Linked DNA regions of Homo sapiens: all the other regions are reported to be linked to region 1. Evidence: microRNA targets listed by miRTarBase, many of them from high-throughput screens and not tested one by one. Region 1 holds a microRNA gene; each other region holds the end of a gene's coding sequence.
The links. The annotated mature microRNA hsa-miR-136-5p reads ACUCCAUUUGUUUUGAUGAUGGA and lies in region 1 at 1,953-1,975, opposite strand. An mRNA with a match to its seed (bases 2 to 7 or 8) in the 3' UTR can be bound and repressed. Matches are read on the target gene's strand: a 7mer-m8 pairs with bases 2 to 8, a 7mer-A1 pairs with bases 2 to 7 and ends in A, and an 8mer does both.

Region 2: miRTarBase lists GRIN2A as a target of hsa-miR-136-5p. Seed matches in the 3' UTR shown: 7mer-A1 at 2,334-2,340.
Region 3: miRTarBase lists SAMD7 as a target of hsa-miR-136-5p. Seed matches in the 3' UTR shown: 7mer-A1 at 2,424-2,430 and 8mer at 2,085-2,092.
Region 4: miRTarBase lists PLOD2 as a target of hsa-miR-136-5p. The part of its 3' UTR that is shown has no 7-base or 8-base seed match.

What each region holds. Positions count from the first base shown.
Region 1 is chr14:100,883,516-100,886,690 of GRCh38, reverse strand. MIR136 (microRNA 136) reads right to left here and starts at 1,989; the gene lies at 1,908-1,989. It overlaps RTL1 (retrotransposon Gag like 1), which reads left to right. Exons shown (of 4, transcript NM_001134888.3): 4 at 1,817-3,175. The coding sequence starts at 1,903. It overlaps MIR432 (microRNA 432), which reads right to left and starts at 2,208; the gene lies at 2,115-2,208. RefSeq lists a silencer at 705-999.
Region 2 is chr16:9,760,141-9,763,315 of GRCh38, reverse strand. It overlaps GRIN2A (glutamate ionotropic receptor NMDA type subunit 2A), which reads left to right. Exons shown (of 13, transcript NM_001134407.3): 13 at 1-3,175. The coding sequence ends at 167. Among named protein-coding and RNA genes, the nearest start is that of LINC01195, 310 kb to the right of the region's middle.
Region 3 is chr3:169,938,025-169,941,024 of GRCh38, reverse strand. SAMD7 (sterile alpha motif domain containing 7) reads right to left here. Exons shown (of 9, transcript NM_001304366.2): 9 at 1,850-2,707. The coding sequence ends at 2,519. Among named protein-coding and RNA genes, the nearest start is that of SEC62, 27 kb to the left of the region's middle.
Region 4 is chr3:146,067,974-146,071,148 of GRCh38, reverse strand. It overlaps PLOD2 (procollagen-lysine,2-oxoglutarate 5-dioxygenase 2), which reads left to right. Exons shown (of 20, transcript NM_182943.3): 19 at 1-107; 20 at 277-1,709. The coding sequence ends at 432. It overlaps LNCSRLR (lncRNA sorafenib resistance in renal cell carcinoma associated), which reads left to right and starts at 1,964. Exons shown (of 2, transcript NR_146297.1): 1 at 1,964-2,330.

The DNA.
Region 1 (3,175 bases):
TTGGAATTTTACAGTAATAATGCATATCTCAGAGGACTTTTATGGAGAGGAAATGAGTTAATTTCTGCAATGTGCTATGTACATCATGATGATGATGATGATGATTCTTATAATTCCTATACCATGCTGATTTGTATACTGTGCTTTAAAAAAATGTGATCTCTACCTTGAGGAATGACAAAATAAGAATTTTATATTATATTAAGGCCCTTACATTTTAACCAGAGAATAGTTTTGGTGAGTTTACATGTCAGATATGTTTACGCTAGAAGGTTTGGATTTAATATTGCAGACAGTAAATAAACAGTGGAAGGCTTTAATCAGAGAGACTGCATGATCAAATTTAAGTGTCATGCTAACAAGGGTGTACTTAATTTTGAGAAACAGCAGATCTGAATTTTGTATCCTGTTGGAAAGCTTGGATTTTAGCCAATGAGTTTCACGTAAGGGGGAACGCAGTTTTTTTTTTTTTTTTTACGGATGGGTCCAGTGGCTTAGAAGAAAACTCAGAAGTAACAAAAGGTGTTAAATTTATAAAGAGCAGTAGCTTTACAGTTAATCTATCAGATAATCAAAGCTTAATTTGCTCTGCCCCAGCAGAGAAGAAATGTGCAAATAACCCCAACCAAGACATTCCCTTTCAATTCTGTCTCAGCCCACTAAAACCACCCAACACTAGATTTCCAAAAATCCACTCTGGGACCGTCAGATTCCAAAGATGTCACATGTTCCCCCCAACCCCCACACTCAATGTCCCAACTCTGCCAGATACATGTCTGTTGGGAGGGCTCAACCAGCAACAGAGAGAAAAAGATATTTGCTAGAAAGAGGAGACCAGACCCACTGGCGTTAAGAAGGGGACCTGGGAGGATAAGATTGGAGAGGCGTGCAGATATGCTTGCACTGGTGAAATTGAGGCCAGATGTGTGAAGTTCCAGAAGCCTCACAAAGAGGGCAGTCCTGGGAGAGTGGAGATTGTAGGAAGAGAAGGAGATTATTTGAAGATCTCCTCAACAGCTCAGAGGTCGGGAGAACATAGCATTGGAAGGAGACCAAATCGAGAAAGAGAAATTGGCCAAAAGTCTGAGTTAGAATCAAGTAACAAATATGCAGTTATCCAGCACATAGTAGGTATGTTATAAAATTTATGGAAAAAAAAAAAAAAAACCCAGACCTGTACACACCCCCTGAAATTTCTATTTTGAACATGGGGAAGGAAATAAGAACTATTTTGGGCTGCTGACCCAACTGACGGGACAGTGGCCAAGTGCCCATTTTCTCCTCTTCCACTGCACTGGTGAAACAGTAGGCATCTTTGCTAGAGATTCCCGCTCCACAACCAAGGTGGCTGGGCTTGCTCCAGAGCCCTGAGCCTGCCAGGGGTGGCTTTGGATGGTGCTGAGATGTGACCTCTGTGATTCTCAGGTGACCAAAGCAGGAAAAGAGGATTGACCAGGTGCATGTGCCAGGGGGGAATGGAGCAGCCTGTGCACCCTGCCAGGTACCCGCCTGCCACGGTGGCTGCTCCCAGCCACAGAATTTATGGGCTGTGAATTTCTCACATCTATGGAGGAAAAGGACAGGACAGGCAGACTGAATAAGCCTGGGAGGCAGGTCAGGGGTTGACAGATCTTCCCTCCCTGGGGGCACCCCAAGTGACCAGCCAAAGAGGCTGGCTCGATACAAGAAGGCTTTCCCCCATTTCTCTCTGCTCTGATTAGTTGGGCATCTGATTTGTCCTTGAGACCCTGATACTGCCACTTCACAAGATCCTAAACTACTGCCTTTACTCCCCACACTCCCCTTCCACCACCAGGTTCTGATCTCCACGGTCCCAGCTACTGACTGGACGCCATCACAACCTTACCAATCTTCAGAATACACTCCTTTCCATCCGACGAAATGATAGAACCCTCTGAAGACTCATTTGAGACGATGATGGAGCATAAGAATCCATCATCAAAACAAATGGAGTCCTCCGAGGGCTCATCCAACACCACCGAGGCGACGTCGGGCAGTGGAGTGCGGGGAGAGGCAGGGCCAGCCAGCGGCCCAGCCCAGGAAAAGAAGGAGCCCCCCAGTGGCCCACTCCAGGAAATGGAAGAGCTGCCCACTGATCTACTCCAAGACATGGAGGAGCCATCCAGTGGCCCACGTAAGGAAATAGAGGATCCACCCAATGACCTACTCCAAGACCTGGAGGAGTCATGCAACGGTTCACACCAGGCAAGGGGGGATCCACTCAGTGGAGCATCTGATAGGATGAAAGAAGCATCAGTCAACCCATCGGGAGCCCGAGAAGAACAAGAGGCTCACACTGACCTGAAGGAATCGGGAAGGGAGGAGACTCCTCAAGAGCAAAACCAGACCGAGCACTCAACCGCAGAACTTATGGCCATGGTGAGGTCCATCATCTCGCTGTACTTCCGAATGCAAGACCTCAAAGAGCAACAGAGAGTAGCAGAAGAGATCTTGATCAAAGGGATCAATGCAGGCCAACTGCCCGCCCCAAAGCACTTCTCTGGCGATCGCAGAGAATTCCACGAGTTCATCGTACTCTGCCAACTGACCTTACAGAGCTACCCAAGAATGTTCTATAACGACCGTCTGAGAGTTGGCTATGTCATCAATCACCTGTCCGGCTTGGCATTAGAATGGGCCAAAGCTCTACTGCAGGAAAACAGCCCCCTGATCGGAGACTTCCCAGCCTTCCTGGAGGCCATGTCCGAAGTGTTTGAGTACCGCCAGGCACTGCGTGTGGCAGAAGAGGCCATGTTCACCATCAGGCAGGGCGGCCGCTCTGCCACTGAGTACATCGATGAGTTCCAGAGCCTGGTACCCATCTTGGGCTGGCCAGATGAAGTCCTGCAGGCCCACTTGTGCCAGGGGCTCAACGAGGAGATCAGGCACTATCTATTCCGGGTCCCTCAGCCGGATTCCCTAGACAGTCTGATTGTGCTCATCCTGCAAATAGAAGAGAAGCTGGCAGAGAGAAGAGCTATGCTCAGGCTGCCCCCCGAGGCCCGCCCCCGGAACCTGACCTGGATCGACTCACCTGCTCCAGAGAGGTGGATGGTCAGCAGCTGGTTGCCCAGCGAAGTCCATCCGGACATCAATCGCGCCCACCTCTTCCTGCTGCTCATGGTGAGAGTGAACCCCTACCACAGCGTCGCGG
Region 2 (3,175 bases), not on the chromosome of region 1:
CGTACTGTTCCAGGGACAGTCGGGGCCACAATGATGTGTATATTTCGGAGCATGTTATGCCTTATGCTGCAAATAAGAATAATATGTACTCTACCCCCAGGGTTTTAAATTCCTGCAGCAATAGACGCGTGTACAAGAAAATGCCTAGTATCGAATCTGATGTTTAAAAATCTTCCATTAATGTTTTATCTATAGGGAAATATACGTAATGGCCAATGTTCTGGAGGGTAAATGTTGGATGTCCAATAGTGCCCTGCTAAGAGGAAGAAGATGTAGGGAGGTATTTTGTTGTTGTTGTTGTTGGCTCTTTTGCACACGGCTTCATGCCATAATCTTCCACTCAAGGAATCTTGTGAGGTGTGTGCTGAGCATGGCAGACACCAGATAGGTGAGTCCTTAACCAAAAATAACTAACTACATAAGGGCAAGTCTCCGGGACATGCCTACTGGGTATGTTGGCAATAATGATGCATTGGATGCCAATGGTGATGTTATGATTTCCTATATTCCAAATTCCATTAAGGTCAGCCCACCATGTAATTTTCTCATCAGAAATGCCTAATGGTTTCTCTAATACAGAATAAGCAATATGGTGTGCATGTAAACCTGACACAGACAAAATAAAAACAGTTAAGAATGCATCTGCACTGTAGTGCGATTGACATGTGCAAGAGATTAGGAAGTTTGGCTCGTAACAGTTTCAGCTTTCTTGTTATGCCTTCCATCACAGCCCAGGCTCACCCCAAGAACTCCAGGCTCCCCTAAAGAATAGCAAATCAGTGTGTTCGTGATGACTGTGCTACCTTCATTATAGTTCATTTCCAAGACACATCTGGAGCCAAAGGCCCGAGGGACCCTCAGGTGGGGAGAGCTACAGGAATCTCTTTGGATGTTGATGTGTGTTTCTCTCACCCTCGGCTTCGATGGTCTTGTTCAGAGCTGCATAAACTAACACATTTATGTCTCCGAGATCTAAGTGTGGATCTTCTGTCTGTGACACAGTGGCCATTGTAGTTTATCCCGAAGACGCCTATGTACGTAAGTTTGCATTTCCTCCCTTCTGGTGATGACTCAGGGTTGTATAGTATCTGTTACCCCTTCCCTCCCAGAGTAACCATAACTCGTTCCGTTTCCAAACAGCCATGGTGGTGTCCAATTAGCTGTGTATCGCTCTTCCCAGAGTTGTTAATGTGGTGACATGCACCAACAGCCGTATGTGTACTGTGATCTGTAAGAAGTACAATGCCATCTGTCTGCCGAAGGCTAGCATGGTTTTAGGTTTATCTTCCTTCACATCCAGAAATTCTGTTGGACACTCACTTCCACCCCAAACTCCTCAAATCAAAAGCCTTCAAAACACGAGGCACTCTTGGATCTACCCTGAGTATCCTCCAAACTGTGGATACAGTTTAGTGAGACAAGCAATTTCTCCCTTCTGAGTTATTCTCTCTGTTGGTGGCAAACCACTTCATAGCACCAACAGAGATGTAGGAAAAATTCCTCAAAGTATTTGTCATTTCTGAGTCGCCTGCATTATCCCATTCTTATTCTCCTCAAACCTGTGCATATATGACATGAAATGATATCCATTTTTTTTTTAAGTTAGAGACAGAGAGGGGAATACTTATGCATGGGGAGCCTGTTAGCACAGTGCCTGCCACAAAAACAAGTGCCCCCGACAAGATAGTTGCTATGTTATGACACTTTCTCAGATCAGGATTTTCTAGTTTAAAAATTAAATATCATAAAACCAGCAAATAATATTAACTAAACCTTTTATATAGTTCTACTCTGTTAATTAGTGTATTTCATGTACATGAATATTTTTGAAGTATTTGGGATAACTAGCCATCAGTGTTTGCAGAAGACCTCAGTCTGTTTTGGGCCATTACGGAAACACTAAGCTAATGTAGACTCGCCTGGCCATTTCCTGGTTTCCTCCTGCATTCTGCTTTACATTCTTGAAGAAAGGGATAAAGTGGCAGGTTGAAAAATTATCCCATTTCTTCTCCTCATGGTGTGCGTTCTGTTTTGTAAGTATTATTTTCTTGCATGTGGGCAAGTGTCAGGGATGATTCCCTTAAAGCTCAAGGATGCATGGAATAGCTCCATCTTTGGGAAAGTACACCTGACCTACAGTGTTCCTATAATGAAAAGTGGTTGCAATAAATTTCAGGGTCAATCATAGGGAGACAGAGGGAGGCAGTGGGTGAGAGGAGCTTCCTTTCATTTTTGAAAGGCAGAAGGGGCTGACTAGGTGCTGGGGATGCATGTGCTTGAAAATGACATTTTATTTCCCGGATGCTGTACCTCTGCTGCCCCAAGACCCAGCCATGGAGAAGCCTGGATCGAAGGGCCCAGAATAGTCACCCCAACATCTGATCCTAAATCTGAATCTCCATGACTGTGTAGCCTTTTAGCCCTTTCTACCTTCTGCCCTTCCAGTGCATTCCAGACCTTAATCCACCCCAGCAAGGATCGCCTCCATTTCCTCATGAGTCTGGGATGTTTTGACATGAATGAATTAAAAAGTCTTCCCAGAATACAGAAGAGTGATTTGTCGTCAAGCCAAAGAGGCTTTCTGTCTTCCTCTGGTGTCCTCTAAACCCAGGGGGCTGCCAAATGCCACAGAGACCTCCAGGGAGAGTGAGAGTTATACTTGGACTGACTTCATCGGTCAGAAAGCCTTCCCCTAACAGCAGCATTATTTCTGCTATTAACCCCATACATCTCTGGATAAAGAAACTGAAAACGTGGCCTTTGGAAGAATCAACAGTAATGTTGTGAAAAAAATATATATTCTTTTCACTGACCGAAGTGTTTTTTCAAATAAATAATCAGAAATGTTATGCTACACAAAGTTTATGGTATCCCTTCTCTACTAATTCAATGACTCTTCAATGTGATGATCCCAAGCAAAAAAAAAAAAAAAAAAAAAAAATCAACTACTGATCAGATGGTCAATTTCTAAGGAAAAGATGTAGAGTTATTCAAAGGTCATCTAAGTCAGTTCAGTCTTTGCAAAAAGAATATCAGGAATGTAACGTCCAGTGGTAAATGGAACCCACAGTATGAGAAGTAACAAGAATTAAATAGGAAGCCTGGAAGCCTGAGACTATAGATCTATCACAGAAGATTCCCGTAACATATCCCAGCTCTGAGTTCTTAGATTTGT
Region 3 (3,000 bases), not on the chromosome of region 1:
GAGTACTGAGAGCTGGGGAGGGCCTCCTTTACATGTGTTCTTCTGGTTCTTTTTTAAATGCATGGACCTAAAATTAAGCACAGTGGTTTTTTCTGGTGATAGTACATGCCAAGATGGCATATCGGAACATTTTCCTTAGAGCAACATTGAGATACATCTGTGCAAATCAATCAATTACCAACTCAATGGACTTATTTAGCAGCAATACGAAACTCAAAAGTCATCATAGTGATTGAACCTCATTATCACTTTGCCATTAAAAATATTAAGCATTTCTTTTTATCCCTCACCACAGCATCTGTAACTCACACCTGGCATTTTGTGAAACTTCTGTTTGCTGGGTAGTATAGCAGGTGAAATGTCACGTGACCAAACAGTTCTTCGGTACACTGAGCATCAGATGAATAAAAAGAGGGAAAGAGGAAGTGAAGCATTTTTCAAGTTATTTTTAGTAAAAATCTTGCCACTCGTTATTCATTGGCTTATTGCCATCTTAAATAACTTAAAAAAGACATATTTTTGAAATATGGGAGGATTTTCTGTCTGTCCCTGTCTCTCTTTCAGCAAAGGGACCAAGAGAGTAAAGTAACAATTCACAAATACATGTGATGGTTTCATACAGTTTTTGTCAGAAGAAAAACCTGTTGTCTTAGTAAAAATGAAAGAAATGGAAGCTTAACTAAATTAGGCTTATAGGAAAATGATTTCAAAAGCCCACCTTCCAAATCAAAAAGTGAATGTGGGTAGCATGCAATTTGTGTTTACTAAATGCAACTTAATTTGTTTGTTTTAGTACTCCATTATTGTGAAATAAATTACTTCAAAACTTAGTGGCTGAAAACAACACACATTTATTATCTTACAGTTTCTGTGGGTCAGAAATCCAGAGTGGCTTAGCTGGGGGCCTCTGGCTGAGGGTCTCTCATGAGCTGCCATCAAGCTGTGGGCTGGAGCTGAGGCACCTTCAAGTTTCCTTACATGGCTGTTGGCAGCGTCAGAAGATCCATTTCCAAGTTAATGTGGGGCTCTCCACAGGGCTGCCTGGAGACAAAGAATCTGGCTTCCCCAAGAGTGAGAAATCCAGAGAGAGAGAGAGAGCGAGCACCCAAGACAGAAGCCACAAAAGTGACATCCCATCTATCACGCCTTCTGTATTCTGTTCATTAGAAAAGCCTCAATACCCCCAGCCCGCCCTCAAGCGGAGTAGATCACACAAGGGCTTGGGATACCAGGATGCAGGGATCCTTGTGGGCCATCTCAGAGGCTGCTTTCTAGAGTTTGCTCATGTTAAATGTAAATTTTTTAAATAGAAAATATATTCTCATGGTTAAAAATTCAAAATGTTCAAGAATGTATATGGTAAGAAGACTTCATATCCTGTTAGCCAATCCCCTCCTTGAGCAAACTGTCATCATTTTCTTGTTTATCCTTTCAGAGACATTCTGTTAAACATCAAGTTGAAAATGTGGGATTCCACAGGGTGTGAGCAGAGAGCACTCCACCTTGCCAGCTCAAACCTGCTTTGCAGAGATAACTTCCCCACCCCTTGGATGAAATCTCAAGTGGATACTATGACTTTTCACCTCCCTCTCAGATAAAAAGCAGTCCTCCAGTCACTTTCAGTCATAACATAGTTGTATTTCAGAAATAAAATACCTAGTCATGAATAATATTCAAACTCGATTTTTTTTTTTTTTTTTGAGACAGAGTCCTGCTCTGTCACCCAGGCTGGAGTGCAGTGGCACGATCTCAGCTCACTGTAGCCTCCGCTTCCCAGGTTCAAGCAATTCTCCTGCTTCAGCCTCCCGAGTAGCTGGGACTACATTCGCGCACCACCAGGCCTAGCTAATTTTTTTTTGTATTTTTAGTAGAGACGGGGTTTCACCATGTTGGCCAAGCTGGTCTTAATCTCCTGACCTCATGATCCGCCCGCCTCAGACTCCCAAAGTGTTGGGATTACAGCCGTGAGCCACCGCGCCTGGCCAAAACTCGAAAATTTAAGGTTAAAGCTTCTCACCTTCCCTAGCTTGGGCCTGCTTCACGCTGGAAATCTGGAATGAGAAGAGATGGAGTCGTGGTCAGCTTCTCCATTTCTGTTCTGTACTTCTGCCCGTTCTCTTCTGCCTCTCTGTGGTTTCATTGGGTTGCCTTTATCTCTTTCAGGGTTTGGGAATGGAAAATGAGTGAAAAAAGGGAGGGAGCTCTTTTTTCAGTTTCAGCTCTTTTGGTTTCTTCAGAGATTTCTTCATGGAAACATCCATCTGCAGCTTTCTTGATGTTTGTAAATCTCCCCTTCATTAGCATTTGCTCCTAAGGATGCGTCTCCAGTCATTTGGTGCTGGGGTCATTCAGCCCTGGCAGGGAAGCCCCTTGGGCAAGTCTCCTCCATGAAAGCCCCAGAAAGGCTGACTTTCTCTTCTCATTCTCCATCCAGTACTGGGAAATCCTCACACATCCTTTGTAATATCCTAGGCTCTTTGGAAAACTGGCTAAGACTATTCTTCCTCCTTGAGGGCTTTTAGTTTCTCATACTACCTCGCTCAATTCCTTTAGGAATTATTGTATCCTGGGGACAAAAAATGTTCATTGTATCACTCCAGGAATTAGGATCCAGAAGAGGGGATGTATCTGCTGGTTGATCAAATGCTTGTCTTATAGGAAATGAAAGAGTTTTCTTGTAGAACATACTTCCCACATGCTGAGATACCTTTTAAGACAAAATAATTATAGTAATCAATTCTATGAATTTTTTTCATTAACTCAGCATTAAACACACATCACAGAGAGGCTGAGGTAATTTCAGGCATGGAGCATCTATTAACATATAGTTGTGGGGGTCACAATTGTAGGATGTGGTGGGCTTTTTCTTTCTCTCAGAATTATAGTGTTTACAGATGTAAAACAGGGTATCAAGGTGGCTCTAACCAGGGGCAGCTGAGCAATAGTGGAATTACTGAGGGGGAGAAAAGTAGATGGTGAGGTCAGGACGGTAATGGTGGT
Region 4 (3,175 bases), not on the chromosome of region 1:
TTGTAGTAAAATACTCCCCTGAACGACAGCGTTCTCTTCGTCCTCATCATGATGCTTCTACATTTACCATAAACATTGCACTTAATAACGTGGGAGAAGACTTTCAGGTAATTATGACTCTTGTGTTTTTAGATTTTTCAAAAGAAATATATCATTATGAAAAGGACTTTGCCTTAGGCCTTAGTTTCTTTTTTAAATTTTGCTCAAATGACATAATTTGAATTTTGCCACTGGTTAAATATAATCTGATGTATTTCTTCATTTTAACTTTTTTAGGGAGGTGGTTGCAAATTTCTAAGGTACAATTGCTCTATTGAGTCACCACGAAAAGGCTGGAGCTTCATGCATCCTGGGAGACTCACACATTTGCATGAAGGACTTCCTGTTAAAAATGGAACAAGATACATTGCAGTGTCATTTATAGATCCCTAAGTTATTTACTTTTCATTGAATTGAAATTTATTTTGGATGAATGACTGGCATGAACACGTCTTTGAAGTTGTGGCTGAGAAGATGAGAGGAATATTTAAATAACATCAACAGAACAACTTCACTTTGGGCCAAACATTTGAAAAACTTTTTATAAAAAATTGTTTGATATTTCTTAATGTCTGCTCTGAGCCTTAAAACACAGATTGAAGAAGAAAAGAAAGAAAAAACTTAAATATTTATTTCTATGCTTTGTTGCCTCTGAGAATAATGACAATTTATGAATTTGTGTTTCAAATTGATAAAATATTTAGGTACAAATAACAAGACTAATAATATTTTCTTATTTAAAAAAAGCATGGGAAGATTTTTATTTATCAAAATATAGAGGAAATGTAGACAAAATGGATATAAATGAAAATTACCATGTTGTAAAACCTTGAAAATCAGATTCTAACTGGATTTGTATGCAACTAAGTATTTTTCTGAACACCTATGCAGGTCTTATTTACAGTAGTTACTAAGGGAACACACAAAGAATTACACAACGTTTTCCTCAAGAAAATGGTACAAAACACAACCGAGGAGCGTATACAGTTGAAAACATTTTTGTTTTGATTGGAAGGCAGATTATTTTATATTAGTATTAAAAATCAAACCCTATGTTTCTTTCAGATGAATCTTCCAAAGTGGATTATATTAAGCAGGTATTAGATTTAGGAAAACCTTTCCATTTCTTAAAGTATTATCAAGTGTCAAGATCAGCAAGTGTCCTTAAGTCAAACAGGTTTTTTTTGTTGTTGTTTTTGCTTTGTTTCCTTTTTTAGAAAGTTCTAGAAAATAGGAAAACGAAAAATTTCATTGAGATGAGTAGTGCATTTAATTATTTTTTAAAAAACTTTTTAAGTACTTGAATTTTATATCAGGAAAACAAAGTTGTTGAGCCTTGCTTCTTCCGTTTTGCCCTTTGTCTCGCTCCTTATTCTTTTTTTGGGGGGAGGGTTATTTGCTTTTTTATCTTCCTGGCATAATTTCCATTTTATTCTTCTGAGTGTCTATGTTAACTTCCCTCTATCCCGCTTATAAAAAAATTCTCCAACAAAAATACTTGTTGACTTGATGTTTTATCACTTCTCTAAGTAAGGTTGAAATATCCTTATTGTAGCTACTGTTTTTAATGTAAAGGTTAAACTTGAAAAGAAATTCTTAATCACGGTGCCAAAATTCATTTTCTAACACCATGTGTTAGAAAATTATAAAAAATAAAATAATTTTAGAAAGTTTTGTTGTTCTATTATTGGTGTTTATCTTCCAACGTGAATACATGATGGAATTGTCTGAAAGAATGAAGCCTTTGATTTTTCATTTTGCTTAGTAGATTTAATGATATACGAAACTATTGAATTATAAATGAAATTATAAAATCTTCAATTTTAGGATGACTAGGGATTTGATCTAACTCGTTTTCCAAGTGAGAAAATAGAAGCCAAATGTTATTCAATATAGGTTTATTTGTTTATTAATATTTTCTGGGTCTCTATTATGGGTCAGGCACTGTTCCAGGCACCAAGGATATGTTGATGAAGAAGACATTATAGTCACTGTGAGATGGACTTAAAAAGATAAGGAAGTTGGTTCTACTCCTGTTCTCTTCTTTGGCGACACTTAATACCCAAAGAAAATTTCTACTATCCATCAACTAGGATAAGGAGACATTTTAGTAATGATTTGTGAATTATGTTACTGTACATCAGGAATGGTTTTCAAAATATGTAACACCTGGTATGATGTAGATGCCAACTCATCGGAACAGACTCTGGTTATAAAAGCAGATCGGTTCGTTCCTACCAGTGCAAGCCAGCTTAATATCTCTTGTGGTACAGTTCAAAGACATCTCCCAGGTACTAGTTATTTTCCATTTTGGTATCCATGGGTGGTTACTTAGCATAACTATTTCAGTCTCATGCCATGTTTTCAGAAATGGGATCCAGGTAGTCTATTGAGCACAGTTTTTTTGTCTTTCCTCTTATCCTACATTCCATGAAATAATATAAAATGTAGCTTTAAAAAGATGATTCATAATTACTGAGAGAAAATTAGAAAAATTCCCATAAGTAGATTAAAAAATTTGAAAAACGGAAAACGAGTAGAATTGGAAGGATGGAGAAAAATACAGCTTGAAACACACAGAGCAGAAGATACAGAAAGTACATCTATTGTTTGATTCATTCATTTTATGCAATATAATAAAGGCTTTTTAAAAAAAATACACACACACACCCATATATATAAACAATTATCCCCTGAATAATATGGGCGTTAGAGGCACTGATCCCCATGCAGTCGAAAATCCACATGTACCTTTTGACTCCCTCAACACTTATCAACTAATAACCTACTGTTGACTGGAAGCCTCACTGATAACATAAACAGCTGATGAACATTTATTTTATATGTTATATGCATTATACACTGTATTGTTACAATAAGCTAGAGAAAACGTTATTTAAAAAATTATAAAGAAAGATAAAATATATTTACTATTCATTAAGTGGAAGTGGATCATCATAAAGGTTTTCATCCTTGTTGTCTTCGCGCTGAGTAGGCTGAGAAGGAAGGGGAAGAGGAAGGGTGTCTCAGGGGTGGCAGAGACAGAAAAAACCGGCATACACATGAGCCCGCGTAGTTTAAGCACATGTAGTCCAAGGGCTTATTGTGTATCTGCAACAATCAGATATCTCTGACA